Linked DNA regions of Homo sapiens: all the other regions are linked to region 3. Evidence: fine-mapped expression QTL. A gene starts in region 3. Each other region holds a variant in brackets. All regions are shown on one strand. Distances are from middle to middle. Region 1 holds the start of LOC102723675 (a long non-coding RNA gene). Region 2 has its middle 41 kb from the start of CCDC149. Region 3 holds the start of CCDC149 (coiled-coil domain containing 149).

Region 1 (10,285 bases), 65 kb before region 3:
AAAAGCAACAAGAGGCAGGGTGCAGTGGCTCACGCCTGTAATCCCAGCACTTTGGGAGGCCAAGGCAGGTGGATCACCTGAGGTCAGGAGTTCAAGACCAGCCTGGCCAACATGGGGAAACCCCCATCTCTACAAAAATACAAAAATTAGCCAGGCATGATGGCAGGTGCCTGTAATCCCAGCTCTCAGGAGGCTGAGGCAGGAGAATCGCTTGAACCTGGGAGGCAGAGGTTGCAGTAAGCTGAGATCACGCCACTGCACTCCAGCCTGGGCAACAGAGTGAGACTCCCTCTCAAAAAAAAAAAAAAGAAAAAAGAAAAAAGCAACAAGAATCAGGTGAAATGAATTTAAATACCTCATTTACTCTAATCTATCCAAAATATTATCATCTCATCATGTAATCAATCTTTTAAAATATTAATACGATTTTTTTCATGCCAAATCTTCAAAATCCAGTGTTTGTTTTTTTTCCACTTGCAGCACACTCCAATTCAGACTAACTTCATTTCAAGCCATTCATAGCCACCCGTGGCCAGTAGCTTCCATATTGGAGAGTACATATCTATACTTAGGCAATTGGTTCTCAGCTGGGTGTTTTTAAAAGTGCAGGGGAGTTGGGCTGCCTTTCGTTAGCAGAGATGATGAGGGTCTTGAGAGACCTTTGGTAATCACACAAGGCTTAGGACAGTCCCACTGACAATGAAGAATTGTTCTGCCTGAATGCTGATAATGCTTCTATTGAAAACCGCTGCTTTCATACATGCAAAGAGCTTAGAACAGTGCCTGGCTCACAATAAGCCCTGAATGCAAGATTATTATTATTATCGTTACTATGCAGTCAGGTCCAGACTTCATCTCCTAGCATATGAACGCTCCATAGTCTTACCCCAGTGCTTTTACCAAGAAACCACACACACACACACACACACACACACACACACACACACACACATACCCATAATAATACATATGGGCATATGGGTAGTTTCTATATCTTCTATGCCTATTATGTTTGTGCATGTGTGTGTACAGTGCCTGAGTGTATGTGTGTGTGTGTGAATATCTATCTATCTATCTATCTATCTATATATATATATATATATATATATCTTGGGGTCTTCATATATCTCATTTCATTGCTCTGCAAATCTACCTTGAGAATAGGAGAGTGTATTAGTCCATTTTTACACTGCTGATAAAGACGTACCCAAGACTGGGCAATTTACAAAAAAAGAGGTTTAATGGACTCACAATTCCATGTGGCTGGAGAGGCCTCACAATCATGGTGGGAGGTGAAAGGCACGTCTTATATGGCAGCAGACAAGAGAACTTGTGTTGGGAAACTCCCCTTTATAAAACCATCAGATCTTGTGAGACCTGTCCGCTATCATGAGAACAGCACACGAAAGACCTGCTCCCCTGATTCAATTATCTCCCACCAGGTCCCTCGCACAACACGTGGGAATCATAGGAGCTACAGTTCAAGATGAGATTTGAGTGGGGACACAGCCAAACCATATCAGAGAGTAACTATAATTAGTTCTGTTGTACAGATAAGAAAACTAAGGCCAGAGAAGTTAAGCTGCTTGCTTAAGTTCACACAGCAACTGAGGAAGAGCTACAATTTCAACCTTCTTTGCTAGAGATTAGAGTTTACTATCCATAAATCTGGAAGCCCTAGCAATACCAATGTTATAGGTATCATGACTGAAGCCAGCCCATCTTCCACTGCCAAAGACCTGCCAAGCTCTTCCTTGGGGGACACACCAGAAGAACAATTCTCCCTGTGCTTGGGCCCGAGGCTCACCATACGGTTTCACTCCTGTCCTAGAAATGAGCTTGGAGCCGGTGACAAAGAGAAACATCCCAGTGCAATTTCAGTCTCAACAATGACAACTGATGATGCACAATAGTGGGATCTGGCCTGTAATCAGTTTCAAGCTATACTTAGCCATTTAAGCGTCCATTCTGCTCACTCCAGAGAGTGTGCGGGAGAGTCACACACCCCTCAGCTTCAGCTTCTGGCTCATCACCGCAGAGCACCATGCGGAAAAAGGACCCCTTTGTGATAGCACCGTAAATTACAGCCCAGGCAATCTGGAGTCTCAGCTAGAGTGGATTCTTCTGTCTCCTAAAAGAAAAATCTGTTTTAGGCTTAATTACAGTCTGTCATTACCTGCAATCTTATAATGACCCAAAGTCCCTGGAAAATGATAATAATAATTAAAAAAAAAGAGAGAGAGAGAGAGAGAATCGATTCAAATATGAATGGAAAAAGCCAGACAAATGCAGGGCAGGGAAGTGCTGGTAGCATTCTTCAGAAACAACTGTGCCATGAGGATCAGAGCTTTACAATGGTAAATACTTATTCTGGCTCCGTTGTCAATTTACCAGGCCCAAGGGCTCAGTGTTAACTTTACTCACTTTCTGAATCTTTAATCTCGTTGCTGTAGAATTCACCTTATAAAATGCAGGAGCAGCTCCCAAGATAAATTGATGCTGAAAATCAGACGACTGAGATTTAATAGGACAATGCTTCTCAGATCCCGCGAGGACGCATTGAACATACGAAAAGTGTTCAGTGATTGCTCTTAGTATGTTAGTAAGGAGATGCTGAGGTTTATCAGAAGACGCCTTTTAAATCAAGTTTTCTTTGTCAGTTTTCACGGACAGGACTTTCAGGTGCAGCCGACCATTGGGAGCTCCCTCTTGTGGCCATATCAGGAATGGAAATGTATCTCTTCCCACCACCCGACTTAAACCTCCAAAAGCAAAACTGAGGCCAACTGACTCAAGCTGGTGAATCCGCGATTGCGTACTAGAGAAGGGGGCCTTAGGGAAGTCTCAAAATGCTACGCTTAAATTTTCCTGGAGTCCAGATGTCCTTCTGAATCCACTAAACCTTGTGAAGCGATGTGAACGTCAGGTAAAAATCCTTTCTTTTCCTGTTTAACTGCCTCGTTATTTATGGACACAATTACTTTATATTATATACAGATTATATAAAATAACTCGTTGATTATTTTTAATTTATTGCTTGTGAGAATTCCCTGTGCATCAAAGAAGCCTTTTAAGCCGATTTTGCTTCCACAACAAGATTCTCGGGTGGATTCAGTTTACCGGAATTAACATCGACGCATTGACGTGACATTCAGTTGGGAACATGGAGCTGACTGTGTTTAGAGAGAGCTGAGCAAGTTCCCTAGGCAGGTTCCTTTTACTGTAATGGTCCCTGGGTCACAATGAGAACTTGGCCACCATCCCATGCAACTCCTCCTTTTCTTTCCGTTGCACTCTGGTTTCAGGAAGGAAATGATGACATGACTTACCCATCAGCCCTGTTTCCTGATTTTGAAACCACAGGGAATCTGCTCAATTGTAGGAACCAGGTTAGGAAAAGACTGAGTTAGAAATCATTACATTGTGAATAACAGAAAACTCAAACCAGTTTAAATAGCATATGGAATATATAGGGGCAGGTAATGACAAGTCTAGAGGTAGGCTTCAAGTAAGGCTTGATCCAGTAGATCAGGACTATTGCCAAGGACCCCACTTCTCTCCATGTCTTCTCTCTTTCTTCTAAGGTATAGCAGACCCTGTCTGTGCTCTGACCATTTCCCTGCAGCCTATCCTGAAGATCACTTGCAGACATTTCCTGTATACTTCAAAGATTGCCTGCATCTTTCTGTCTGAGGGCATTCCCTGTTCCTGGTGGTGTACACCCAAGCTGGAAATACCAGAAAGTTAACACCCCAAGATTGACCCTCAATACTAAGGAATAAAAGTTAGTTAATAAATATCCCAGGTTCCTTACACAGGGACAGTAAGGAGATATGCTGCACAGTATTTCTCAAGGTATTTCCCAAGACACTGAATCCATGTCCCCCATGGTGGCCTCATTAATTCACCCTTTACTGGCTTCCATTTGTTCCCTGTCTCACTTCCCTGCTCTCTCAAAGTGTTCCCTGCAATTCCTGTGCCCCCAAACCATTTGCATGCAGTCCTTCTCAGGGTCTCCTTTTCGGGGTAACTCAGGGTAAGAACAAAGTGCACCGCTTCCAGAAGGGAGCCATGAGTGTTGGACAACCAGCCACAGATGTCATCCTATTGAGAAATCCTAAAGACACGCCCAGGTCAGAGAAGCCAGCAGACTTCCCTTCTGGATATGGGGCATTTTACCAAAGGAAACCAGTGAGTCCGAGTAGATCTGAATCTGTGGCAAAATTGCCAGCATTTCAGCTGTGAAAAGCACACAGGATGCTAAAACCATCTCATTCTCTGGTGGGCGGTGGGTGGCGAATGGTGGGAGGAATGATGGGGAAAGGGAAGACTGTTCATTTTATTCACAGGGAAAATTAGAGACAACAACCATGGAGAATGGGTTCCAAATGCCATCCTACCCCCATCCTTGTCTCTTCATCTGAGGTTTTTCTGATTTTTCTGACTCCTCCAGAATTCACTGACCTCCCACGCCAACAACGAACCATCCCTCACAATTTAGACAAGTGCTGCCAACAGAAATAGAATGTGAACCACATATGCAAACCACCACATGCAACTTACAATTTCCTGGTGTCTACATTAAATGAGGGGAAAGAAACAGATGAAATTAACTTTAACAATGTACTTTATTTAACTCAGTAGATCACAAATATCCTTTCGATATGAAATTAATATAAAAATTATTAATAGGATATTTATATTATTTAAAAAAATCAAGTCTGTGAAAGCTGATGTGTGTTTTACACTTACAGCACATTTCAGCTCAGACTAGCCACATTTTACATGCTCAGTAACAGCAGGTAGTTAGTAGCTACTGTGTTGGACAGCACAGATTTATTTATTCATGTATTTATTTATTTTTGAGACAGGGTCTTGCCCTGTCACTGAGGCTGGAGTTAGTGGTGCAAATATAGGTCAGTGCAGCCCCAAAGTCTTGGGTTCAAGCAATCCTTCTGCCTCGGTTTCCTGAGTAGCTGGGACTAAAGGTGTGCACCATCAAGTCCAGTTAATTTTTTATTTTTGTAGAGATGGGATTGTGGTTATGTTACCCAGGCTGGACTTGAACTCCTGACCTCAAGCAATCCTCCTACCTTGGCCTATTAAACTGCTGGGATTACAGGCATGAGCCACTGTGCCCAGCCAGGTAGCATAGATTTATAGCATACCTTGTTACTATGTGTGTATTGAGCTTTTGAATTTCAAAATGCTTTCACATGCATATTATCATCTGGTCAATATTCCTAACAGGCAGACCTATGTGGTATTATCATCCCTGTATTGGTAATGCCTTAGGGGAGGTTAAGCTATTTTATCCTCTTTAGGGGTAGCAGGGCTGGGACTAGAGCTGGACTCCAGTGCTGGGCGCCTTCTACCACACCTTAGGTATTTCATTTGGGTCCACGACATCATCTTTTTTATCATCTTCAACATCTGGTATTAGCTAGACAGGCTTGTTGATTCACAGATAATATTAATTAGGATTTGTTTGGCCACAAATGACAGAGACTTGATTCAAACTGGCTTAACTATAAATAACAGAGGTGTTGGGGAGTGAAATGTTAGTTTGTAAAATGAATGCACGTGGTTTCAGGAATGGCTGGATCAAGGGAGAAATGGATATTTCCTGACGCATGGCTCTGCTTTTGTCTGTGCTTAGTAGATCTTAGGCAGCATCTCCACACAAGATAGCTAAGAGGATCTCCAACCTGCCAGCTTGGAGTCCTCGATGGAAAAAGAATACCTCTTTCCCAAAGCTCCAGCCAATGTCCTGGGGAAGGAGCTCATTGATGGGGCTTGGGTCCATGCCCATCCATGAACCAGTCATTGTACATCGTCACTAAGTCCCATGTCCACCCCAGCAACCATGAAAGCAACACAGTATCAAGGGTGGTCCCCCAAAGAAAGGGGAAATAATGGATCCCGGGCAAGCAGAAACCACAGATGTCTTCCCTGCCAATCCTGCATGCCTGTCTTTGGATTTTGTAATTAGAAATGAGGTTTGTTTGTTTGTTTTTTCCTGATCAGGTCCATCCTTTAATCAAGCCTGGATAGGCATCCTGGGAAGCGCAGAGCCTGTGTTCTAGTGTGGTCCATGCACACTCCTCTAGCGGCCAGATGTTCTCCACAATCGCACATAGCTTCCAAATCCCCGCTTGGCTCCAGAGCTGGAGTCCATTGCACACACCTGACAACACTTCTGGGAACATCCTTCAGAAAGGACACTATACCAGCGCAGGCCAGATGATGGCACACTTTTTGTTTTTTGTTTTTTTGAGAGGGAGTCAGTCTCGCTCTGTTGCCCAGATGGCTGGAGTGCAGTGGCACGATCTCGGCTCACTGCAATCTCTGCCTCCTGGGTTCAAGCAATTCTCCTGCCTCAGCCTCCTGAGTAGCTGGGACTACAGGCATGCACCACCATGCCCAGCTAATTTTTGTATTTTTGGTAGAGATGGAGTGTCACCATGTTGGCCAGGCTGGTCTC[A/G]AACTCCTGACCTCAGGCGATTCGCCAGCCTCAGCCTCCCAAAGTGCTGAGATTACAGACATGAGCCACCGCACCCAGCCTGATGACACACTTTGGATAAATGTCCTGGTGATACCTCTATACCCATTTCCACCTTCTCCAGCCCTTCACCCTGACACAGGCCTGGTTCCAGGGCCACACAGTGCCCAAGCAAGGAGGATACCTGCAGATGGCCTCAAGTGGGGGACTCTGCCTGTGCTCCATGTTGCTTTCCTTGATAAATGGACCCTGGAATTACTCTAAGGGGCCCAGATAGATTAGTAAGGATCTCTTTGAGCTCCACGTACTCTTAAAAAGAATTAAACTCATTTAAGGAAAAAGGTAATTATTGGCTCAAATAACTGAAAAATCTAAAGTAGGCACAGCTAAACACGGGGCTCAAATGATTGCCACCAAATCTTTCCTCTCTTTTCCACTTCCCTCCCTTCCCCCCTCCCTCTCCTTCCCTCCCTTCCCCTCTTTTCCCTCTCCCTTCTCCTTCTTTTTCCTGTCCCCTCTCCTCCTCTACCCTCCTTTTCTCTTCTTTTCTCTTCCTTGTATGCATGGACCACACTGGAACACAGACTTTGCCCTTCCCAGGACCCCCAACCAGGCTTGAGTTAAATGATGGGCCTGATCAGAAAAAAAAACTCATTTCTAATTACAAAATTCAAAGACAGATGCGGGATTGGCAGAGAAGACATCTGTGGTTTCTGCTTGCCTGGGACCCGTTACTTCTCCTTTCTTTGGGGGACCACCCTTGACACTGTGTTTACTTTCATGGTTGCAGGGGTGGACACGGGACTTAGTGATAGTGCACAGTGACTGGTTCAGGGATGGGCATGGACCCAAGCCCCATCAATGAGCTCCTTCCCCAGGACGTATGCTTCCTCTCTCCTCCCCTTCCCTCTCCTCTCTTCCCCTCCCCTCTCCTCTCCTTTCATCTTTTCTCTCCTTCCCTTCCCTATCCTACTTTTCCTTCCTTTCCCTCTCCTGTCCCCTCTCCTCCCCGCTTTCTTCTCTTCCCCTCCCCTCCCTCTCCTGTCCCCCTCCTCCCCCTTCCTTCTCCTTCCCTCCCCTCTTACATTCTCTCCCCTCCCCTCAAGATCCCCTCCTCTTCTCTGCCTTCTCCTCCCCTCCCCTCCCTCTCCTTCCCCCTTCTCCTTTTGTCTTGCCTCCCTTCTTTTCCCTTTCTCTCCTATCTTCTGTTTTGTCTTCCTCCCTTCCCTTCCTGTTTTAGTCTGTTTTGTGCTGCTATAACAGAATAGTTATCATAGAATACCTGAGATTGGGTAATTAATAAAGAACAGAAATTTATTTCTCATAGCTATGGAGGCTGGAAAGTCCAAGATCAAGGTGCTGGCATCTCATGAGGGGCGTCTTGCTGCAACCTCACATGGCATAAGGCAAGAGAGCAAGCTAGTGCAATGCTGCGCAAAGCCTATTTTATAAGACCTTTAATCCCATTAACAAAGAAGGAAACCTCACAGCCTCATCACCTCTTACAGGCACCACCTCTTCCTACTATCACATTGGCATCATCTGAATTTTGGAGGGGACACATTCAAACTATAGCATTTCCCTTCCCTCCCCTTCCTTCCCCCAACCCCCTTTCAACCCCTCTTTCACTCCCTCTCCTGGTTCTATTCTCTTCTGCTCACCTTTTTCCCAGTCTCTCCAGAAAAAGCACCAGGATGGGGTGGCTGAAATGGAGATCTTCAGAATCAGGGAGACCCTGAGTCCCACAGAATTGGATCATCCGAGGCCATGCAGTTGAGTGGGAAGATGTGATTCAGCAGACATTGATTGAGCACTTACTGAATGCAGACTGGTGTGGGGGGTGTAGAGATGAATAGGACATGTCTTCCCTTTAAGAAGCTCAAAGACTAGTGAGAAGGAAAAAAGAAAGCCATATTGGTTGAGAAATTCTTATGTGCTAGGGAATTACATTATGAAATCCTCATGACAGAGTCACCCAGAAAGATGCAGAAAGGTCCGGTGATTTCTGGGTGCTGCAGCAGAGCTGGGAGTTGACATCAGGGCTTCTTGGCTGCAAGGTGGTTACTCTGTCCTCTAGAGCCACACATTTGCCACTTGAAAAACGACATCTCCTGGAATTGCTGAAAAAGCAAAGAAGTATGGGTTTCCTCTGCAGAATTCAGGGATTTCACCCCTCTAGGGTTCTGACTCAGGGCGGGGGCAAATTCACGTGGGAGTGCGGGATGCGGAACTGATGCCTCCCGAGTCTCTCCTAAGCTTGTGAGTCTCAAACCACAGATGGCTGATTGGTGGGGAAAGCAGCCGGCACCTGCGGGTCACCTTCCGCCCTGGGGAGCAAACTGTCAAAAGGAGCTGTGCCCGAGGCTGACCTAGTTAGACAGTGGGCCGCACACAGGCGCTCTCCTTTGCAGGATTTGTTCCAGGCGTTTGTTTATTTGCGCACCACTTTATTTGCCACTAAAAATACTCTTCCGAAGCAGAGGCGCAACTGACCGTGACTCTTGCGAAACAGCCGAGTGCACAAGCACTGAAGGGCTCCCTCTCGGGCTTCCCGGGCTCGGGGACTGCAAGGGGAACAGAGCAAGGCCTACTTGCCTTAAGGCAGGCAGCTCTGTTCACTTCCATAACCCCAAACCCAATCCCTCCATGAGGCACTTGCTGGTTAAGAAGCAGCTCTCAGCCTGCCTGGTGGACTGTGGATAACGTTGCACAGAACTCCTCAGTTGTAACCAACAAAACTCAGTTCAGACCGGGTTAATCATACACTCACACACACGTATTGTCTCAATGAGCAAAAATTCCAGAGACTGCTGTAGGCACAGCTGGATCCAGTACCGATGGATGGCTGGAATCTGGTCTAACTCTGGCCTTTTTCAGTTCTTTTTATCCTCTGGGTTGGCCTCACTCTCAAGCATGTTTTCTCCTCACAATGTCAAGATAGCTGCCAGTAGCCTCAGGCATGCTTAATCACAGCTCCAAGTGCAAACAAAAGGGGACTTCTTTTTCTCCAGACTTTTTTTAAATGCACTTTATTGAGGTACAGTTGATATACAGTAAACTCCATATACTTAAAGTGTACAATTGGATAAGTTTTGACATATGTGTACACCCATGGGACCACCACCATGTCGACACAAAGAGTCAGACTCCATAAAATTTTTAAACAGGTTTATTCTGAGCCAAATATGAGTGACTAAGGCCTGAGGCACAGTCCCAAGAGGTGCTGAGAATATGTGCCCAAGGTGGTTGGGTTACAGCTTGGTTTTTATATGTGTTAGGGAGACATAAGACTTCAGTCAATACATGTGAGGTATATATTGGTTTGGTCTGAAAAGGTGGGACAACTTGAAGGGGAGGGTTACAGGTCATAGGGGGATTCCAAGATCTTCTGATTGGCAATTGATTAAAAGAATTAAGTTATTATCTAAAGACCTGGAATCAATAGAAGAGTGTCTAGGTCAAGATGAGGGGTTGTGGAAACCAAGGTTCTTGTTACATAGATGAAGCTTCATGGGTGCCCACCCTTACAGGCAAAAGATGGTGAATGTTTCCTGCTCAAACCCTTAAAAAGTGCTAGACCCTCAGTTAGTCCCTTCAGGATTGGGAGGGTCTGGAAGGGGAAATATCTAGTTAACAGAGATTCGTTACAGATGCAATTCCACCACAAAAACAAAGTTGCAGGCTATTTCAAAGTGTGACAAATAAACATACTTTGGGGTAAAATGTTTTGATTTCCTTCTTTATCTGTCATGTGATGTTATGCCAGGGTCAGATTGGAAAGTC
Region 2 (10,285 bases), 41 kb before region 3:
CTAAAAATACAAAAAAATTAGCTGGCCGTGGTGGCACACGCCTGTAGTCCCAGCTACTCAGGAGGCTGAGGCAGGAGAATTGCTTGAACCCGGGAGGCGGAGCTTGCAGTGAGCCAAGATCGCGCCACTGCAGTCCAGCCTGGGCGACAGAGCTGTGGCTCTGCCTGCGTGATCTCGGCTTACTGCAACCTCCACATGCCGGATTCAAGTGATTCTCGTGCCTCAGCGCCTCAGCCTCATGAGTAGCTGAGATTACAGGTGTGTGCCACCACACCTGGCTATAATTTTAGTAGAGGCAGGTTTTCGCCATGTTGGCCAGGCAGGTCTCAAACTCCTGACCTCAAGGGATCTGCCCGCCTCAGTCTCCCGAAGTGCTGGGACTACAGGTTAGAGCCACCGCACCTGGCTTTTTTTTCTTCTCTGTTTTTCATTTTGGATACTTTCTATAGCTATGCCTTGATCTTCACTAATTCTGCAATATCGAATCATCCATGAATTGCATATAGTGCATTTTTTTTTACCTCAAGTATTATAGTTTTAATCTCTGGAAGTTAGAGTTGAGTCTTTTAAGATATCTTACAACATATGAAAATGATTATAATGACTTTTAACGTCCTTGTCAACTGTCAGATCTGGATGGTGGAATAGTTGATAGAATTAGTGGATCTCAATGTTATGTGCCCATCTCTTTTGTTGTAAAGTGGGTCTTTGGTCTGAAGAAATGTAATGTAGGATCCCAATGTTAGCAATCAGACACTTTGTGAGCTTTAGATAGTGGTGCTTCAGATAGGTAGTCTGAGGCACTGCAGGCAGAAAGGCAAACCATCTAGAAGAAACAATCCTGATCATGATAAAGCACTGCCGTTTCCAAAGGAAAGTCTTCTGGTATAATCAATTTGCTTCAATGTGGCTAGTTGGACTCTTCAAGGTACGCTACCATATGCAGGGCTAAGTATTCGTCTCTACTGTTGGCAAATCACATATCAGCAGCATTAGTAGGTCAATGAGCCCTGGTGAGAAAGAACCTATGCCATTGAGTCATAAAGAGCTTCTATATCTGCCACTGTGACTACTTCATTCATGAACCTATTGCATAAAAACTGGGATGACCAAGGACAGACATTTCCTGATGTCTACTGGCTGAGGCACCAGCCCCTTTGGTTGTTTAATGTCTCTTTTGCACCAGATACTCTCTGGTGAACTTGGGTGTACTATATGAAGATACTATACTTGATGTCTACTCTCAGGAGTCCACCCACATCCTTCCTAGACCTTCCCATTCCGAATCTTCCAATCTTGCTTCTTCCCATTCCCTTATTAACTATGTAAGTCAGGAGTCAGCAAACTTTTTCTGTAAAGGACCAGATAGTAAATATTTTTGCTTTTGTAAGCAATCCAGTTTCTGTTGCAACTCTGCCATTCTTGCAAATGCAGCCACAAACAATATGGAGATGCACAGACATGGTTATGTTCTCATAAAACTTTATTTATAAAAATAGGCATTGGCCTGGATTTTGCCTATGGATCAGAGTTTGCTAACCCGTGATGTAAGCATTGCTCATTGCTTATGAATACATGTATTCCGTTGACTTAAATTTCTTATTGCTCCATGGAAAATAGACAACCAGGTACACTGGCCCCAGTCTTTTAGGGCTGTACCTGAATGGGATTGTACTATGGTGGTGGTCCCTTTTAGGCCAACACCTTCATATCAAGTCAATAAATCAGTAGGCTGAGTTTGGGCTTAATACTCCTCCTTCAGCTAGTTGTAGAGAACCTCTCATAAAGTTATACATGTGAGCTTAAAGAGGAGAGTCAATGAAACACTGGTAGATTACATGAGGATCTGTGCTACTGGTTTGGGGAGATGACTTATGCCCTCTAACCCCAGAGGTACCATTTCTATCTAACAATGGAAGGTCCCTGGATGTGCCTGATTTTGTTGCTTGGTGGATTTAACAGTTCTCAGGTTATAAAAGACAGCTCTGGCCACATGATACTTCATGGTCAGATAGTTTCTACCAGAGCCCAGTTGTATGCCAGGAGCTGTGTTTTGAGTAGAGTTCTCTGCCATAGATTTCATGGCTTTATTCCATAATTCTAGGGATTTGAGCTCCAATGTTGGAGCCAGAGATTCCACACAGTATCTTTTTGTGATGTGCTTAGTACCATGGGATTTCTTGGTCACATAGCTCAAATAGCAGGGATGCTTATACTGTAGCCTAGGCCTAGTACAGAGCTCTTTCATGCTCTGGGCCCCATTCAAGCTAAAAGCCTCAGGTCAGCTGATAAATTAGATTGTATACACTTTCTCAAGTGTGAATGAAGTATGCTACTTCCAGAACCCAAAGAGACCCGCCAAGTTTCTGCTTCCTTCTTAGTGGTAGGCGATTCAAAATACAATAAATTTATTTGTTTATTTATTTACTTTGGATGAAATGTCATGGCCTGCCTCAGGCCACTGAACACCTATAAATTTAATCAATGTGGCAGACCCCTGATCCTTCGTAGGGTTTATTTCCCATCTCCTAGAGTGTCCTACTGTGGCATCCATAGTACTTCTCGCTCACTGGGCCCAATTGCTATGATATCATCGATATAATAGGCATGGAGGGCCCCAGGTAAGGTATGTGTGTGGGTGCATACTGGGGAGAGCTGAGGTAGTGGATCACTAAAGTAATTTATATTAATAGCCCGAAATTACCTAGGTCTGGTTTAGCTCTCGCAGGAATGGCAATATAGTAATTCAGAAGTTTAGGCTGGAGAAGAGTCAGAAGGTTGTCAGCAGCCTTTAAATGAACAAGATAGCTTTAGAAGTCACTTTGAAAGTCTTTACATATGTTAATAGAGGGTCACTGAGAGGGTGAGTTGGAACTATCAGGCCTGGGGCAAGTTCAGAGAAATCCTTGTTATGGGGTTAGTTTGTGTAGTTTGTGTTAACTAGGTTTGCTGTCATCTCACAAGAACTTTGTCCTCTAAGGCAGCAAAAGGAGAAATGACTCAGCATACACCCAGTTAATTTGGGAGATGATACATGAAAACCTTGAGGCCTATATTTTTGCCTCTCAGTAGTCTAACAATTGGGCTCCAATTATTTCAGAACCACCGCTAGAGTCTAATATATGCGTTAAACTTTCTGCCATCTCCTTAGATGAAGATTCAAGCAAAGATTGTGTTCCTCTATTTGGGGTTGTAGGAAGGGTGTGAATAAAGTGTTACTCAACTGAAGTCTCTATAAGAATTTTCTTCAAACTTTTTATTGTGGTAAAACACAAAACATAAACTTTACCATGTAACCTTAAGAGTACAGTTCAGTGGCATTAAATACATTCATAATATTTTTTAATACCATTGCCACCATATCTCCATCACTCTTTTCATCTTGAAAAACTGAAACTCTATTACCATTGAACAGCAACTTTCCATTTCTTCCTCCCCTGGATTCTGGCAACCACCCTTCTACTTTCTGTCTCTATAATTTTGACTGCTCTAAGTACCTCATATAAGTAGAATCATACAATATTTGTTTTTGTTTTTGTTTTTTGTGACTGGCTTATTTTACTTAAAATAATATTCTCAAGGTTCATCCATGTTGTAGTATGTGTCAGTGTTTCTTTCTTTATTAAGGCTGAATAATATTTCATTGTATGTACATATCACATTTTTCTAACTCATTCTTTTGTTGATGGATACTTGGGTTATTTCCTCATTGCTATGGTTTTAATGTGTCCTCTCCAAAATTCACGTGTTGTCAATGTGATAGTATTAAGAGTTAGGGTCTACAAGAAGTGACTAGGCCTTGAGGGTTCCTTCTTCATTAATGGAACTAAGGCTCTATGAAAGAGGCTACTCAAATGCAGAATATGAGTAGTTTGCCCTTTTTGCCCTTCTGCCTTCTGCTGTGTGAGGAGAGAAGGTTCCTCCCCTCTGGAAGGATGCAGTGAGAAGGCCCTCACCAGACACCAAATGCTAGTGCCTTGATCCTGGACCTCCCAGTCTCCAGAACCAAG[G/A]GAAAAATAAACTTTTCTTCTCCATAAATCACCAAGTCTCAGATATTCTGTTATAGAAACACAAATGGAGTAAGACAAAAGTTGGTACCAGAAGCAGGGTGTTGCTATAACAAATACCAGCAGCAAGGCATCTGAGATACTGTATATCTTAACTACTTATAATAAAATGTAGAGAAATTATTTAATTTATAATTAAAAGGGAAGCAGAATGTAGAAATTTTAAAAATTCTCAGTTTAACCATGTAAATAATTAAAAAGCATGTTTAGGGGAGAAAACCAAGAGTATGACCAAGCAACCATTTGATAAGATCAGTATGAATAGAAAGCACCCAGGTGCTATTCATCAAGACAGTGGGAGAATGACACTGAAGGCATTTTGGAGCTCTTCAGTGCTGCCATGCTTATCACAGGCCCAGAGTGCTAGGACCTTGGGGACAGAACTGTTTCTAGGGAGGGGGCCTCAGGACTCACTGCTCAGGGCCATCTTGAATCTCTGCTCCCTGCATTCCAATGCAGTACTCCTTGCATTAGAAAAAATCCAGCTGTGGCTCAAGTGGGCCTAGGTGCAGCTCAAGCCACCACTCAGGAAAGCACAAGTGGTGAACTTTGGTGGCATCCACATGGTGCTAATGCTGCAGGCATGCAGAGTGTACAAGCTGTGGAGTTATGGCTACCTCCACATGGATTTAAAAGGATATCTTGGATAGTCTCAGAGCCCAGGCAGAGACCTACCACGGAGGCAGAGCTTACAGAGAGCCCTCACTAGCACAAAACATAGTGGAGTCTTGGGGGCAGGGCCATCCCTGAGACCTCAGAACTGTAGAACCACCAGCATGCAGCACCTGCCTGGAAAATCTGCAAGCATATGACTTCAATGCATGAAGCCTGGGCTGTACCCAGCAAAGCCATGGGGGCAGGGCTGTCTTGAAGCTGTCTATGGGTCTTTTCTAAGTTTATCCTACTTGGAGCTTGTTGAGCTTCTTGGATGTTTATATTAATGTCTTTCATAAAATTTGGGAAGTTTTCAGCCATTATTTCTTCAAATATTCTCTTGGTCCCTTTCTCTCTCTTCTCCTTCTGGGACCTCCACAATGTGTCCTATAGGTTCTTTAGGCTTTGTTCACTTTTTTTTTTCCATCTTTTTTCTTTCTGTTCCTCAGACTAATAATTTTCATCATCCTAAATTAAAGTTCACTGATTCTTTCTTCTGCCTGCTCAAATCTCTCTTTGAATGTTTCTAGTGAGCCTTTTGTTTCAGTTATTATACTTTTCAGTACCATAATTTCTTTTGGTTTCTTTTTAGCTTTTCTCTCTTCTTGATATTTCCCTTTTGTTCAGACATCATTTTCTTGACTTTCTCCACATCTTCCTTTAGTTCTTTGAGAATCTTTAAGGCAGTTGTTTTAAAGTCTTTGGCAAGTAGAGCTGGCATCAGGTCTTTTTCAGGGACAGTTTCTGCTGATTATTATTTTTTCCTCTGAATAGGCCATACTTTGCATGCTTTGAAGTATTTTTGTTGAAAACTAGACATTTGTATATAATAATCCGGTACTACTAGAAATCAGATCATCTTGCTTCTCTAGAGTTTGCTGTTTGCCAAGGATCAGGTTGAGGTATAAACTTGAGGTCTTTTGGGGTCTTTTCTGAGCATGTGCCTTTTCCTGGCTATGCGCAGTCACTTTCTAATTTTGCTAGTACAGGCAGTTGTTTTTGAATGCCTTAGTCTTTAATGTTTGGGTCTCAAAAGGCAGAAAAGACAAAAATGAAGCAGGGGGAGCCCTTTTAATCTCCTGGAAGTCATTTCAGCTGGAGAGGGAGGGACTTGTAACAATGCACATGTTCCTGGAGGAAGCTGCACACAGCTTGCAAGAGCCAGGGTGGGCAAAAAGGGCCCCATCCTCCAAAATCAGGAATCTGTGTTCTGATCACTGATTGCTACTCCAGTGGAGCCCCCAGCCAGATGCTAGAGAAGTGGTATCCCTTCAATTCTCAGATGTCATCCACTTGCCAGTCTTCTCTGGACCCAATAGACAGTGGGCAACAATTGGAGGGGGGCAAGTTCTGTTACTGGGGGAATGAGCACTTTATTGGAGGGTCAGGTTGCTCTCACAGAGCAGCCCAGTATTGTCAGTCACATTCCACTGGCATCACAATCACCTTCTAACAGATGTTCTCAAACCTAGACTTCTCATAAAAAATCTCTTCCGAAAAGACAGATACTCTATGATTCCACTTACATGAGGTGTCTGAAGTAGCCAAATTTATAGAAACAGAAAGTAGAATGGTGGTTGCCAGGGGATGGGGAAGATGGGGGGAAAGGTGAGTTATTTAAGGGGTACAGAGTTTCAGTTTTGCAAGATAAAAAGAGTTCCGATGACGGATGGTGGTGGTGGTTGCACAACGTGAATGTACTTAATATCAATGAATTGCACACTTAAAAATGGTTAAGAGGGTAAATTTTTTGTTATGTGTCTTTTACCACTATATATATATATATATATATATATATATATATATATATTTTTTTTTTTTTTTTTTTTTTTTTTTTTTTTGAGATGGAGTTTTGATCTTTCGCCCAGGCTGGAGTGCAGTAGTGTGATCTTGGCTCACTGCAACCTCTGCCCAGCCCCCTGGTTCAAGCAATTCTCCTGTCTCAGACTCCTGAATAGCTGGGATTACAGGCACCTGCAACCATGCCTGGATAATTGTTGTATTTTTAGTAGAGATGGGGTTTCACCATGTTGGCCAGACTGGTCTTGAACTCCCGACCTCAAGTGATCCTCCTGCCTTGGCATCCCAAAATGCTGGGATTACAGGGATGAGCCACCTTACCCAGCCAAAAAATATGTTTTAAAAAGTAACTTAAATTTCGCCTACTTCAGAACTGAAATGGCTCCAAACCATTAATAATAGAATACACATATGTATAAACAAAGCCGAAGGTTTGAGGCGTGCACGTTAGCACACACTGCACACAGATGTGTACACGTATGCTTCACCATGCTTCCAGAGGAGTGGGGTTGTGAGTGCCCTAAAGCCTAATTGAGAGAAATTGTTGGGGACTTTATGTGAAATGATGAGAAAGAGGATGATCTGAGAAGGGAACAGTTTAACTGAAGCAAAGGCAATGAGCACCCAACAAAAAGAGGACTCTCCTTTCAAAATTGAGAAAGGAAAAGGTCTCGTCCTTCACAGAAACTCCTTTTCTTCTAAGACCAAAGGTGCCCCATTAATATACAGCACTTACCTCTGCGGAGTTTCAGAGGGTGCATCTGCAGTGTGGGCTTTAGTGAAGATTTGGATTATTAACATGCAAATTAATAATAATAATTCCTGCCCCTCGAATTGCACTTCTTTCTGAAAGGCCTCAAAGAGCTTTACTGTTTACCATTCCACACAAAATGCTGCTTTCTCTAATAACACTGTGAGGTATAAATGGCCACAAAACAGATATAAAAAGGAAACAATTTAAATACAGTCACTATCACAGGTGCATTTGGGATGGGAAATGTATTTGGTCGGATAAATTGTTATCAGTCAGCTTTTCCCTTCTTTTCTGCTTTTTTTAAGCCACCAGAAAAACCCAGAGTAAGTTACCATGAAAAGCTATAATAATGCTAATTTTGTTCCCATTTCCTGGCTTTTTCCACTAGACTTGAGGCTTTTTAATATGACTTTAAAATTATTTTTCCCATTAATAATAGCCTCTCTTTTGTGCTCTGCTCTTTTGAAGTTGTATTATTATTTACCTCTATGACTGACTATGGCATATTTGCTGTTTAAAATCGACTCCTAATGCATGAAAGCACATTCCCAAGGGCCACGCTGTCCACCCTGAAGTTTAAAAGCTTCCAAAAATGAGAGGGGATGCATGATTCTGAATGGAAACATTCGGGGCAGCTTGCCCTGAAGGCTCCTTGGGTGTAGGCAGATCTGGACTGTGGAATGAATTTAAATGAGGAGGCATGCATGGGATCTGTCACTTGCTGCCTGCAGCCCGGGTGACAGCCTGGGCACCCACGGAACCCACACATGTGGTGATCACCCACTGCAGGTAGCGATTTCCTGTGTATCCCTGCCTGAGGCCCCCTTCCCCACTCCCCCAGCTTGACAACACCTGCTTTTTAACCTAAAGGGGTCCCCAAAGATACATAGATGCTGAGCTATGATGTTGAGGGAATCTGTTTCCCAAATGCTAGATTTGAGGAACACAGGGAGCAGCCAGTCAAGACATGAGAAGACTTAATTCTCATTAAGTCAACTTCCTGTGGCCACGTTGGCCAGGTCCTGCTTATTAGAGGTTCTGAATGGTGGCTACACAGGCCCCAGACCCCTGAATTGGGAAAGAAGTTTGTTTCCTTAGTAAACATAGCTTGTATGGTGGGGAAAAAATGTGTTTATTGAATACGTGAATGAATGAGTAAATGAAAAATAAAGGAACTTGTTATTACCCTCCACTGCCACCCTAAGGGGTAAGTACGATAATTATCCCCATTTCATAGATGAGAACACTGAGGATTGGAGAAGGTCTAAGTGCTTGCCAAGATTATGGAGCTGGCTCATGGCAGGGTTTAGATTTAAATCTTTGTCTTACTCCAAAGGCTGGGATTCTCCACTCCCCTTCCAATGTTCTGCTCATTCCCAGCAGCCATATTCCCACCCCCGAGTCCACTCGATTTGGGGTCCATACTGAAATGAAAATAGTAAAGTGATGTTGAGTAATAACAACTAACATTTGCATTGCGCTTACTCTGTGTCAGGCACTGTGCTAAGTGCTTTGCAGATACTAATTAAATACATTTTCACAACCCACCTATGAGGTTGGATTAGAATCACCCTTCACAGATGAGAAGGCTGAAAACAAAAATAGTATTACTTGGCAGCAAGTGGCAAAGACTGGATTCAGCCCTGGGCAGTTTGGCTCCAGAGTTCATGCTCACAGCCTTTGCATTCTCACTGTGATATAGACAGGGGCTCTGGCATACTCTCTCTGCCACCTCATGAGGCTGAGGAATGTCAAGGCTGTCCTTACCAGTTTCTACCAGGACAACAATTTCTCTCTTGAGTTTCCAGGTCAGGGGTGACCCCTGCAGAGATGGCTGTTACACACAGATGGTTTCAGCCATGTGCCTCTGGTATGAGCCAAACTCTCTGATCCTTGGCATAACCTATGACCTCTGTCGCCATCCTTCTCTTCACGGCCACCTCTGCTGTCCCCTCTGTGCACCTGCAGGTTCCTAAAGCAACCACCCACCTTAGTCACAGGCCCCGGGGAGTCCACGGATGAATCCCTGACAACATCTTGGGGAAAGATCCCACTGGTCTTATTCTCCTGCCTGCCACTTCCTTCCCACGCAGGGAATTAGATCCTAACTCCACAATGCACTGTTCTTGCTGTTTTCTCTCAGGTTGACAGAGCCCGAGTCCTGCTTTCCTGGCCTCAGTGCTGCTGTGGATGAGAAATATCTCAGGGCCCTTTCTTTCTGGCTCTGAGGTTTTCGTAGTTGGCTTGTGTGTTTGCAAATGTGTGTAAGCCCCTTGAGACTAGGAATTCTATCTTATTTACCCCTTAACCTCAGAACCTAGCACAGCATCTGGGTCAGTAGAGGTGCTCCACTGGTGTTAGCTGAATGAGTGAATAAACAAATATAGGAGCTCAATATATTTGAATAATGACAGATGAGGGAGTCCCCCCACCACCCCCCCTCCCTGCCACCACTACCTCTCTACAGCTGACAATTTGGAAGGAATCTCAGAAGCTGGAAGTGTCTTTCTGCACAGGATCAGGTCCCTGTAAACGCATGAGGGTGGGGCATACTGTGTGCACGGAAGCCCCAGCTACATTCAGGGCAGAGCCTCTCTGGTCTGTTTTACCTAAGAAGTCTCCGAGTGCATCTGTCCCAGCAGGAAAGAGATGCCACATTTCTGTGGGGTCTTGAGAAGAGTTTAATGAAGAGGTTATTTCCAACAGAATGGACAGTGTTCCAGGAAACCCCAAAGGCATGATGAAGCCCTGGAGGCTAACAACAGCCGTTGCTACCCTTGTCTGAATGGGCAGGATTAGGGGATTCTATTAGTCTGTTTTCACACTGCTGATAAAGACATACCAGAGACTGGGTAATTTATAAAAGAAAGAGGTTTAGTTGACTCACAGTTTCACGTGGCTGGGGAGGCCTCAAAATCATGGCGGAAGATGAACGAAGATCAGAGGTACATCTTACATAGTGGATGGCAAAGAGAGAGTTTGTGCAGGGAAATTCCCCTTTATAAAACCA
Region 3 (10,285 bases):
ACATCCGATGTTCTGAAGGACAGCCTAATGGACAATAAATATTTTACCAGCACTGGCCATTTATATGAAATGCCACCTTTTCACCTTCTCGATCAAATTGTTTTCTTTGTTTTTTTTCCCCATCCCCAAGCCCCATTATTCTTCTACAGTACAGAAGAAAAATCATTTCTGTCATTTCACTAGCAATTTCTGTGTACACAGTAGGTCCTTGATCATGTTTATTCTCTTCTTTTTTCTCCTTTTCCACCCATATCCACTGGCTAAAGATTGTCCCCCACCCTAAGACAAAAATTAGATAGGAGGGCAATGTAGGTGATCCTATTTTAGACATTCATCAGATTTTTTTTTTCATAAGGCTTCCAGAACGACAGGGTCAGTCCCTCTTCTGGCCTGCAGGAGAGGCCAGTGACCCCCAAGTCAGACGTTTCTATTTTCAGCTCCCCAAGTCCAGGGTGCAGTAACCTCCACCTCGCCAAGGGCCATGCTGCTAACCCGTCAGCAGCACGGGCCCTGCTGCCTCTCTGCGTTTCCATTTCCATAAATTTACATCAAATTTGTGCTGAATCATATCCCCCCCACGCAGAAGAAATGAAATACATTATCAATAAGTACAACAAATTTGAATAATCTGAGAGCAGATGACTTTTCCTGTCTCTTTTCCATTTAACTCCTTCCGTGGGCTGCATCTCGATCCACTTTCCCCACCAGCCTGTGGTTGGGTTTCTCCCCACCCCACCGACGCCCACGGTTTTCCGCTCTCCTCCCATGGTTCTTTATCTTTAGGCCTCTCCTCCGGCACCCCAGGCCCTGTCTCTCCCTCTGTCTCTCAGCTCCTTTCTGGTCATCCTCCTTTCTCCTGACATCTTAGTCCCCCTTCTGGGAACCCCTCCAACAGCCAAGGAGTGGCCTTTCCACCTCTGCTCCTCCCCACCTCTTGTCTCCCACAACGCCCAAGCCAATCACGCTCAAGCCTGTGCCCCCTTAGGATGACAACTGCGGGTCCCCGGCCTGCCAGGCCGTCATCAGCCCCACTCAGCCACTGTGAGCGCGGCAGTTCAGCAGGGAGTGCAACTTCCTTCCACCCCCTGCTGCCTGGCTGATTGGCAGCCAGCGGGGCTGGAGGGGAGCAGCTCGTGCTGACTGTTTGCCGCTGGGCAGGGAGGGCTTGGCAGGGGTGGCCGTGAGAGGACCTGGGAGCTCAGGGGTCTAAGAGACACAGAGGATTCCCTGAGTCAGGAACCCGGCCAGAATCCCCCATCTGCCCCTCTGGTATCTGGCTGCTGGCCCTCTGTAGGGAAATGATGGATGAGGTCCTTCCCAGAGAACCTCTAGGTAGGGGGAGGAGAGAGAAGCTTATCTTCTACAGAATTGAGGCCAGTGGTTCAGGGGACCTCAGGTCTCAGGCCTCTGCAGGAGGCCTGGCTGTGGCACTCACCAGGACCTGCAGTCTCCTGATCCTGGTTAAAACCAAGAGCAAATGAAGTAGTTTAGCAGCCAGGCTATAGGGGCTCCTGGCAGGACCTGTCAAAATGGCCCTCCTGGCTCATATAGAGCTAATTAATAAATATATGTACACACACACACACACACACACACACACACACACACACCATTATAAACCACAGTCATTATGAATCATTTTCTGCCCAGATTGAGTTTCTTAATTGAGGCAGGAGAAAAGTCACTGGGGAAAAAAAATGGCCATGAATATTGCCCCAACTATATAGTTCAGAGAGAAGCCCGGCCAAAATCTCTACTGGAGATTTGCTTAGTTTCCTTTAATGAGAACTCCAACAGCCCGAATTTTGCTTGGGCAGCCAGAATTTGAACTGAAATACTGTCTGGAGAAGTCACATCAAAAGCTTTAGGGCTTTCCCGCGTGTCTGGGGCTGCCGAGACCTGGCCAGAGTCTTCATGCAAGTAAGTATAGAACCCATAATGAGAGCTTAGGTTGCTAACAATAAGTTCAAATCATCCTTTCTTTCCCAATCTCTCCAGAGATTTTTTGTTTGTTTGTTTTCATCAGTCTGTGCTGGCTCAAGTTTTTAGATTAAGCTATTTTGGAGTTTCCATGTCTAAAACCCTCTCAAACTTTTAAAAGTGAAAAGCATCACTCAAAAGCAACTAAGTACTTTCTTCTAACACTATAGGTGCACATAAATAAATCAATAAAACTGGTCCCGGGGCTATGAATATATATGGAAAAATTAGGTCCCTAGAGATCAGTTTTCAGAAAGCCAAGGGGATGTGAAAATAGAGGCTAAAGCAAACGTCTCAATACTTTGTAACAGGGTGGCACATTTAAGACAAGGGCACCAGGTTTTAAAATGATCCTGTGCAAATGGACTGTCGGATGGGACATTTAATGTACTGCTTTTATCAGGGATAAAGATAGTTGGTGTATGGGTTTATTTCTTCTTTGAAAAAAGTTAACCACAATATAATTAGCTCTCTTTTTTGTCAGTCTGGGCTGCTGTTGATGAGGTGTCTAGAGGCCTTCTGGTATAGGTGCCTAAAAGCTTAAACTGCATTTAATTATTATTATTACTCAATGTCAGGCTACATAAATGAAAAGAGATAAAAAAGAATTGCTTGCAGCTACATTGCCTTGGTTTGTGATTTCATCACATCTCACAAGCGAAGCAGGTTTGAGCTGGCACTTGGGGCATGAAACCTCTAAGGAAAACCCAGGCAGCTAGAGATGCTGTTTCAACCGAGTTGAAAGTCTCCCCACATGCTGGGGAGGGTAGAGGCTTGCCACACTTTGATTTTGCTCCCCAGCTTTATTTTTAAATACCGTAATAACTGTCTGACTTATTTCGGAGAAGGAAAGCAAATAGGGGAAATGGAGTCACAGGGAGAGTGGTCTTAAAGGCACATAGTCTGGAATGCGAAGATTTCTTGGCTCCCAACGCTCATTGATTGTCTGTCCTGCTGCCTGAAATACCAGTGAGGGCGCCAAAGGAGCAGTGGTATATCATGAAGGGCTCAGCTAACTGTGGAAACTGGAATGGGCTTTCCCACCTGAATGCAGGCAGAGAGCAAGGTGCAGACAAGGAGGCTTGAAAGGCAGATGGACCAAGTTCTGCCCACTTTTCCTACAGTCTATTTATCCACAGGTCAGGATGAAAACAGATGGTTTGCCAGAGGGCAATATATTGGCAGACAGTACCTTGCTTTTTAGGCATGAGACGTCAGGCTTAGGAACAAGTGCTTGGCACTGAGTTAATTAACTCTAGACATTCAGCTCAAGGATGACCTTCTTTCTAGCTCCTTAGATTAAAAAGATAATGAGTTAGGCAGCCCAGAATGGTCAGAAGACCAGAAGCTTTAGCTGCATTCTAGCCCCACCTTTTTTTCTGCTGTTCTCTAGCACCTTAGTTTGCAAGCCCCCTAGGACAGGGACCATGGTGTGCAATGTTATTGAACTTCCCCAGGATGAGTGCTGCAGTTGTATACAACAGGCAGAAAACCAATGTGCTGACTAGTATACTGGTTCCTTTTCTTAGCTCCTGGCCAGCCAGTCCGTTGTAAAATTTTCTTTAGATTATGATGCCAGGGACTATTGCTTTTTGAAGGGCTGCCAGGGAGAGTTCAAGCCATTCAGGCCCTTCATCAGTTGTGTCACCATCCATTTCAGTTACCTGTTGATACCTAGCAAATCGCCCTAAAACTTAGTGGCTTAAACTACAACTACTTATTTAGTATGTGATGCTGTGAGTCAGCTAGTTGAGCAAGGCTCAGCTGGATGGTTCTTCGGCTGGTCTCAGCTGGGCTCACTCATGTGCTTGTCATCAGCTGTGCGGGTGGGGGTGGGGGGGCGTGGAGGGGGCGGCAGGCAATGGCCTCACTCACACATCTGGTGATGGTTGACTGTTGGTTGGGAATCCTACCTTAACCAGCAAGCTATTCGGAGCTTATTTACATGGTTTCCAAGAGCAGAAGCAAGAGTTAAATCCTAATGCACAATTGCTTTAAAAGCCTTTTTTTTTCTTTTTTTTTTTTTTTTTTTCTGGTAACACATGTACAAACGTTGCTTTGGTCAAAGCAAGTTACATGACTGAGCACAGAGTGAAAGAGACAGTGGCAGGGCAAGGGACAAAGAAGGGGAATGATTGCTGCCATTTTGCAAACAGTCTATCATGTGCAAAACAAGGCCAAGAACAAACTTTCAAGGTGATACTTCATTCTTAGATTTCCAAGATGCTAGAGCCAGAAGTCCTAGTTGAGTCCCTGTTTCTCCACGTTTCAGGCCTCAGTTTCCCCATCTAATAAATGAGGATAACATCCATTTCACAGGGTTGATCCAGGATCAACAGGGGCTAAAAATTATAAATAAATGTTGGTAATGATGCTTCCACAACTGTACAATGGGTTCACAACTTCTCAACCTACTTGCTCATCTCCACACACAGCGTTTCTGCGAGTACAGAGGGCTCACTATTGATAGTGGTCCAAGAGGGGATTTTAGGTGTCACAGGAACAGCACCTTGAATACGATTGACTTATGTGTGTGATTCACCTTCCCTCTGTCATTCTCTTTCAGTCTTTCCTCTTAGGAGAAGTCTCAGCTTAATGCCAATGCCTTCCCCTTTTGCTAATTATTTTATTTTTTGTAAAGAGGGGGTGTGTCACTTTGTGGCCGAGGCTGCTCTTGAACTCCTGTCCTCAAGGGATCCTCCTGCCTCAGCCTCCCAAGGTGCTGGGATTACAGGCATGAGCCATGGAATGCCACCAGTGCCAATTTGTCTTTGACACCTCTCTCAACCCATGCTAACCATCTCCCTCAGAGTTTTTGGCCCTATTTAGAATTGAATAATGCTTTATTTTCAATTTTTACATTTGCTTTCTATTAATGACAAATGATACGTTAAAAAATATATAAGCAAGCACTAATAGTTTAAAAAACAATGCTAAGTATATAATAAAACGTGGTTCATTCATTCTTGCGTTCAACAAATATTCGTCCAATAAATATATGTAGAGCATCTCCTATGGGCCAGGATCTTGCCAAAGGCACATCTGCGAACCAAGGAAACCCCTGCCCTCGGGGAGCTTGCATTCTAGGCGTGGGAGTCGTGATGGTGGTCGGAGAAGGACTGGATTTGGGGATTTGCTTCTTGCGGGGGACACAGGCCTGCCCGTGGGGCCCGCCTCCCGCGCGGAGAGCGCTGAGGGGTCCGGAGTGACCTGTAGGCTGAGACCCTGGCTTCCCCTTGCCTAGAGGCCGGGCAGGAGGCGCGGAGCCCGAGGTCGCGGGGCTGAGGGCGCGGGGCGGGCCCGGCGGGGCTCGGCTGCGGCCCGGGCTGTGTCTGCGGCCCCGGCGGCCGCGCCCCTCCTCCCTTTCCCTCCGGCGGAGGCTGACGTGGAGTCAACAGCGCTGGCGGCCGCGAGAGGCGGCGGCGCAGCGGCTCGGAGGCGCCGGGCCCTCTCGGGGCCGCGCGGGGCCCGGGCGGCGGCGGCGACGCGACGTCGCGAGGAGGAGGAGGCGGCGGGGGTCCAGGAGGCCGGCCAGCGCATGGAGGAGGAGGCCATGAACGGCGACCGGACTGAGAGCGACTGGCAGGGGCTGGTGAGCGAGGTGAGGCCGCGGCGCCGGCCAGGCGGGATGGGCCGGGCCGAGCGGCCGCCAGCCCCGGGCCCGCGCCCCCAGAGAGGCCGAGCTGGGAGGGACGAGAGGGGGGCGCGCACTCCAAGTGGCCGCGGCTGCCGCACCCGCGCGACCCCGCCAGGTGCGCCGCTCCTCCTGCACTTTCGGGTCTGCGCGGGCGCCACTTTCTTCCGCGCCATCTGGTGTCAGCCTTTGGGGAGGGGCCTTCCCCCCAAGGCAGGGGTTGGCCCTGGATTGGAGGCTGAAGCCCTGGGATCCGGGAGCAGAAGGTGCCAAGCCCCACCTGCCTGCCCGCTCGCCACTGTTGTGGAGCCAAACAATTGGACGCCTGGGACTGAAACGGGAAGGTGGTGCCATGGGGGAGAATCCGAGCCCTGGGGTGGAACCTGGGCCAGGTGGAATTACCTGCGGCGGTGGTTCGAGTTGGGGGAGTTCGGGGGTCCGCTGCAGCCGTTCACTCATTCACTTGCTCAATTCAATCAACACGTGTTTACTGCAGGCCTACCATGTGTAAGGTGGGGAGGGGCATTTATCGAAAAAGTGAAACACAGGTGCAGAAGTGATTCGATTTGTGGAAGCACAGAACACCGTGTCCCCCTGCCCTGCGACTCTTTTGTCATAAACATACCCTGGGGGTCCACTTTCAGGATCCTATGCTGTTTGCTCTTCAGTTCCCCCTAAGAGTTTGCCGGCCTGCCGGGAGAAGCTGCCGGCCTCTCCAGGTGAGAGGGAATGCGGATTTCTCCCTCTCACCTGGAGGCAACCAGGTAAGTTGCCCTGGTTTGCCACCATTTGTGGGGGCAATTCCTGGTGTTACTTACCCATGCCGGGGAATTTCTCCCTTCTGAGAACCAAGCTCCAGCCAAGGCCAACTTGGGGCTTCCTTTTCTTTAATCCTGTGCACACAATGCAGAGTGTATCGGTTTGCTCTTTTCCTTTCCTTGTGGGTTATGGGAAGGGAAACCCTCTACTCCCTCACTCCTTTCATCGTTTTCTGGGTCTCCAGGTCAGTCTGATAATAGTGCTTCATGCCCAGTGTGTGCAGAGCGTTGTGTTTCTGAAGAGGAATGACATGCGGTAGCTCCTGCCCTAGTTTAGTTTGCTCAGCATTGGTCTAGTAGTTGAAAGCTCTCCTAACTGTCTGGTGTTATGATCCATTGTATTGCAGCCTGGCTCCATCTTCTCAAACTGTCAGGCTTTATGTTAAGGGGCAGATCCTCTGGGGACCTTGTTTCTGGTCCCATCAAGAATCATACTTAGTAGTCAAGGAGGCTGGAGGTAGTTCTCCTTAGAAGTCCAGTGTTAGGCCCTTAAATAGCAGCAGAATCTTCACTACTCCAACAATTGCATATCAGGTGCCTGTTAGGAGTCAGTACATTGTGAGGTGCTTGGGATTCAGTGGTGAATAAGACAAAGAACTCCCCTACCCTCAAAGAACTCCTGGGGGTTTCATGATATAGTCTGGGAGGAAGGTCATACCGTAGACAGTGAGAGTGAACTAAAGGATGGAAAGGCTTCAAGTGCTAAATGGCATGGGGTGCCCCTCAGTTGGCTGGGCTTAACCTTCACCTTGCCCTGACCACATTATTGTAACAATAGGCTTCCTCACTAGGCCGTGTGCTTTGTTTGGTTCTTTATTCCAGGGCCTATACACAGAGCTCTGTATGCAGCAGGTGCTCGAAAAATGCTTGTTGAATAAGTCAGTGAATCCTGAAGTAGGTCCTTCAGGAGTTTTCCTGCCCATCCCAGCAGAGTTTCTCCAGAGTAATACCTCCTTAACTTCACAAACATGAGGTGGGCACGTAGCCAGGGGCCATGGGGGAGGTGAAAATGGGTCTAACTTACTTCCCACCTTAATAATAACTAATGACTATTTTTTGAGTGCATCCTTCATATTAAGCATTTTACATGGCCTCATATTCACAATGACATAAGGTAGGAATTCTTTCTTATTTTACAGATAAGGAAACAGTGGCTCAGACAGGCTAAGGAACTTGCACAGAGCCTCACATCTGGTAAGTGGAAGAGGCAGGATTTGAATCCTGGTCTGTCTGACTCATTGCTTGAGCCTTGCTTGTCTGAGCCTTGCTAGGCCACACTTGCTATTTTAATCATTGCTCATCTGTCTGTATCTTCTGCTAGATGGCAGGCTTCCCAAGGAAGGAGACCATGTCTGATTCAACTTTGAGTCCGCAGCAAATGGCTTGGTGTTTCTTAGAGTATGGCCTACAGATCACCTGCATCAGAGTCATTTTGGGTGCCTGTGAAAAATTCAAGTTTATGGGTCTCTCCCAAATTTACTGTAGTGAGTTGAATTATGTATCCTGCTCCCCCCACCTCCCCACCATAGCTGCATCCGAGACCTAACCCCAGTAGCTGCAAATGTGACTTTATTTGGAAATAGGGCCTTTGCAGATATGATCAAGTTAAGGATCTTTAGATGAGATCACCCTGGATTTAGGGTAGGTCCTAAATCTAATGACTGATACCTTAGAAGAGAAAGGACAGAGATTTAAGCCACAGACACACAAGGGAGCAGGCTATGGGAAGACGGAGATGCATGAAAGGAAGACCATGTGAAGACAAAGGTAGAGATTGGAGTGATGCAGCCACATGGCAAGGCATGCCAGAGGTCGCTGGCAGCTCCCAGAAGCTGGAAGAGGCAGATTCTCCCTCAAAGTCCCCAGAAAAAAACAACTGTTGACACCTTGCTTTTGGACTTCCGGCCTCTATAACTGTGAGTGAATACACTCCTGTTGTTTTAAGCCACCCCGTTTATGATCATTTGTTACAGCAATGTATTAGTCCGTTTTCATGCTGCTTATAAAGACATACCTGAGACTGGGTGATTTACAAAAGAAAGAGAGATTTCATGGGCCTGCTGTTCCACATGACTGGGGAGGCCTCACAATCATGCTGGAAGGCAAGGAGGAGCAAGTAACATCTTACATGGATGGCAGCAGGCAAGGAGGAGCAAGTAACATCTTACATGGATGGCAGCAGGCAAAGAGAGAGAGCTTCTGCAGGAGAACTCCTCTTTATAAAACCATCAGATCTCGTGAGACTTATTCACTATCACGAGAACATTATGGAGGAAACTAGCCCCATGATTCAATTATCTCCCACCAGGTCCCTCCCACAACATGTGGGAGTTATGGGAATGCAATTCAAGGTGAGATTTGAGTGGGGACACAGAGCCAAACCATATCAAGCAGCCACAAGAAACTAATACACCTACTGCTGAAAAGTGCCTGGGGTTGCAGCCCCCTGATCTGCCTTTCTTACAAGCTGAGCTGCCCAGGTAATTCCCCTGCCCAGTCAAGTTTGGCTGGCAGGGGTTCCATGGGTGTGACTGGGTCTGGTACCAGACAGGTAAGATTCAGGGAAGAGTGTGCTCAGCAGCTGTGGTGTTACGAAATGGTTTGGGGACCTGGCAGAAGGACCTGTGGAAGACATCACTGCACAGCTAATCTGGACTACATGGGATTTTCGTGGGCTTGCATTTATTTCTGCAGAAGTCCTGGGTGCTGTCTCCCACCCTGGATCCCCTCTCCATCACCTGCCCAGAGCCCCGTCCTCTCTTTCAATCAGTTGCTTCCTCCACTTGCCTCTAGGAAGCAGTTTTCATTTAAAACAATCCTACAGAGGTCAGTTTTATTTTCATATATTTGGTATAATAAGCTGAAATTACAGCCTTCTTTCAGGCCTGGAAGTAAACACACCCATGCGTGTGAAAGAAGCATGACCAGGGTTCTGTTTTGGAAATTAAATGTCTGGGGAGGGGCAGATATTCTTATCGCCACCTGAGGTGAGCTTTCAAGATTGGAGACATCTCAAAGTACAGGTATGCAGGCAATCAATAACTTTTTATTTCCAAGATAAAAATCCTGGTCATCGCTCAGCCCACCACTCTATGATAAACTATACATAATTCCATTTCACTATTTGAATTTTGGTTAATTAGATAGCAATCAATCTCCTATTCCTTGAGCATGTTGTATGCAGGGGCCAGGAGGCAGAAGACAGTTAACCATGGGCCTCCGCCCAAAGTAGAGACTGATTTTTGGTTTTTGTCGTTGTTGTTTTAGAGATGAGGTCTCACTCTGTTGCCCATGCTGGAGTACAGTGGTGCGATCATGGCTCACTTCAGCCTCCATCTCCTGGGCCCAAGGGATTCTCCTGCTTCAGCCTCCTGAGTAGCTGGAGTTACAGGCACGTGCCACCATGCCCAGCCAATTTTTTTTTTTTTTTTTTTGTAGAGATAGAGTCTTGCTATGTTGCCCAGGCTGATCTTGAGCTCCTGGCTTCAAGGAATCCTGCCTCAGCCTCCCAAAGTGATGGGATTATAGGCATGAGCCACCGTGCCTGGCCTAGCCACTGATATTTGGAAAGGAGAGGTTGAGTAGGTATAGAGTCCAGCTCTGTGGTTAAGGTAAAGACCCAGCTTTGGGTTTCAGTTGTTGACTTAGACTCTGAAGATAATAAGAGACCTGGGGGGAAGTCTTGGCCCTGCCTTTCTCTTGGTACAAAAGATCAAAAACCCAAACCAAAGTGGATCAGCTTAGAGGCAATTTACTGGCTGATGTTGTAGGTTGTACTGTGTCCCCAAAACGATGTGTTCAAGTCCTAACACCCTCCCCTCAACTGCCACCACACAAACACCTGTGAATGTGA

What was found. PIP is the estimated chance that this variant, and not a neighbour inherited with it, causes the effect.
Region 1: its variant is fine-mapped to the expression of CCDC149 in whole blood (TOPMed, PIP 0.96).
Region 2: its variant is fine-mapped to the expression of CCDC149 in whole blood (INTERVAL, PIP above 0.99).

What each region holds. Positions count from the first base shown.
Region 1 is chr4:24,972,710-24,982,994 of GRCh38, reverse strand. It overlaps LOC102723675 (a long non-coding RNA gene), which reads right to left and starts at 3,177. Exons shown (of 6, transcript XR_007058082.1): 1 at 2,425-3,177. It also overlaps a transcript of CCDC149 not described here. The variant A/G (reference allele first, on the strand shown) is at 6,485.
Region 2 is chr4:24,948,873-24,959,157 of GRCh38, reverse strand. It overlaps a transcript of CCDC149 not described here. Among named protein-coding and RNA genes, the nearest start is that of CCDC149, 41 kb to the right of the region's middle. The variant G/A (reference allele first, on the strand shown) is at 4,011.
Region 3 is chr4:24,908,113-24,918,397 of GRCh38, reverse strand. CCDC149 (coiled-coil domain containing 149) reads left to right here and starts at 5,356. Exons shown (of 13, transcript NM_001395273.1): 1 at 5,356-5,581. The coding sequence starts at 5,534. RefSeq lists enhancers at 421-989, 990-1,559.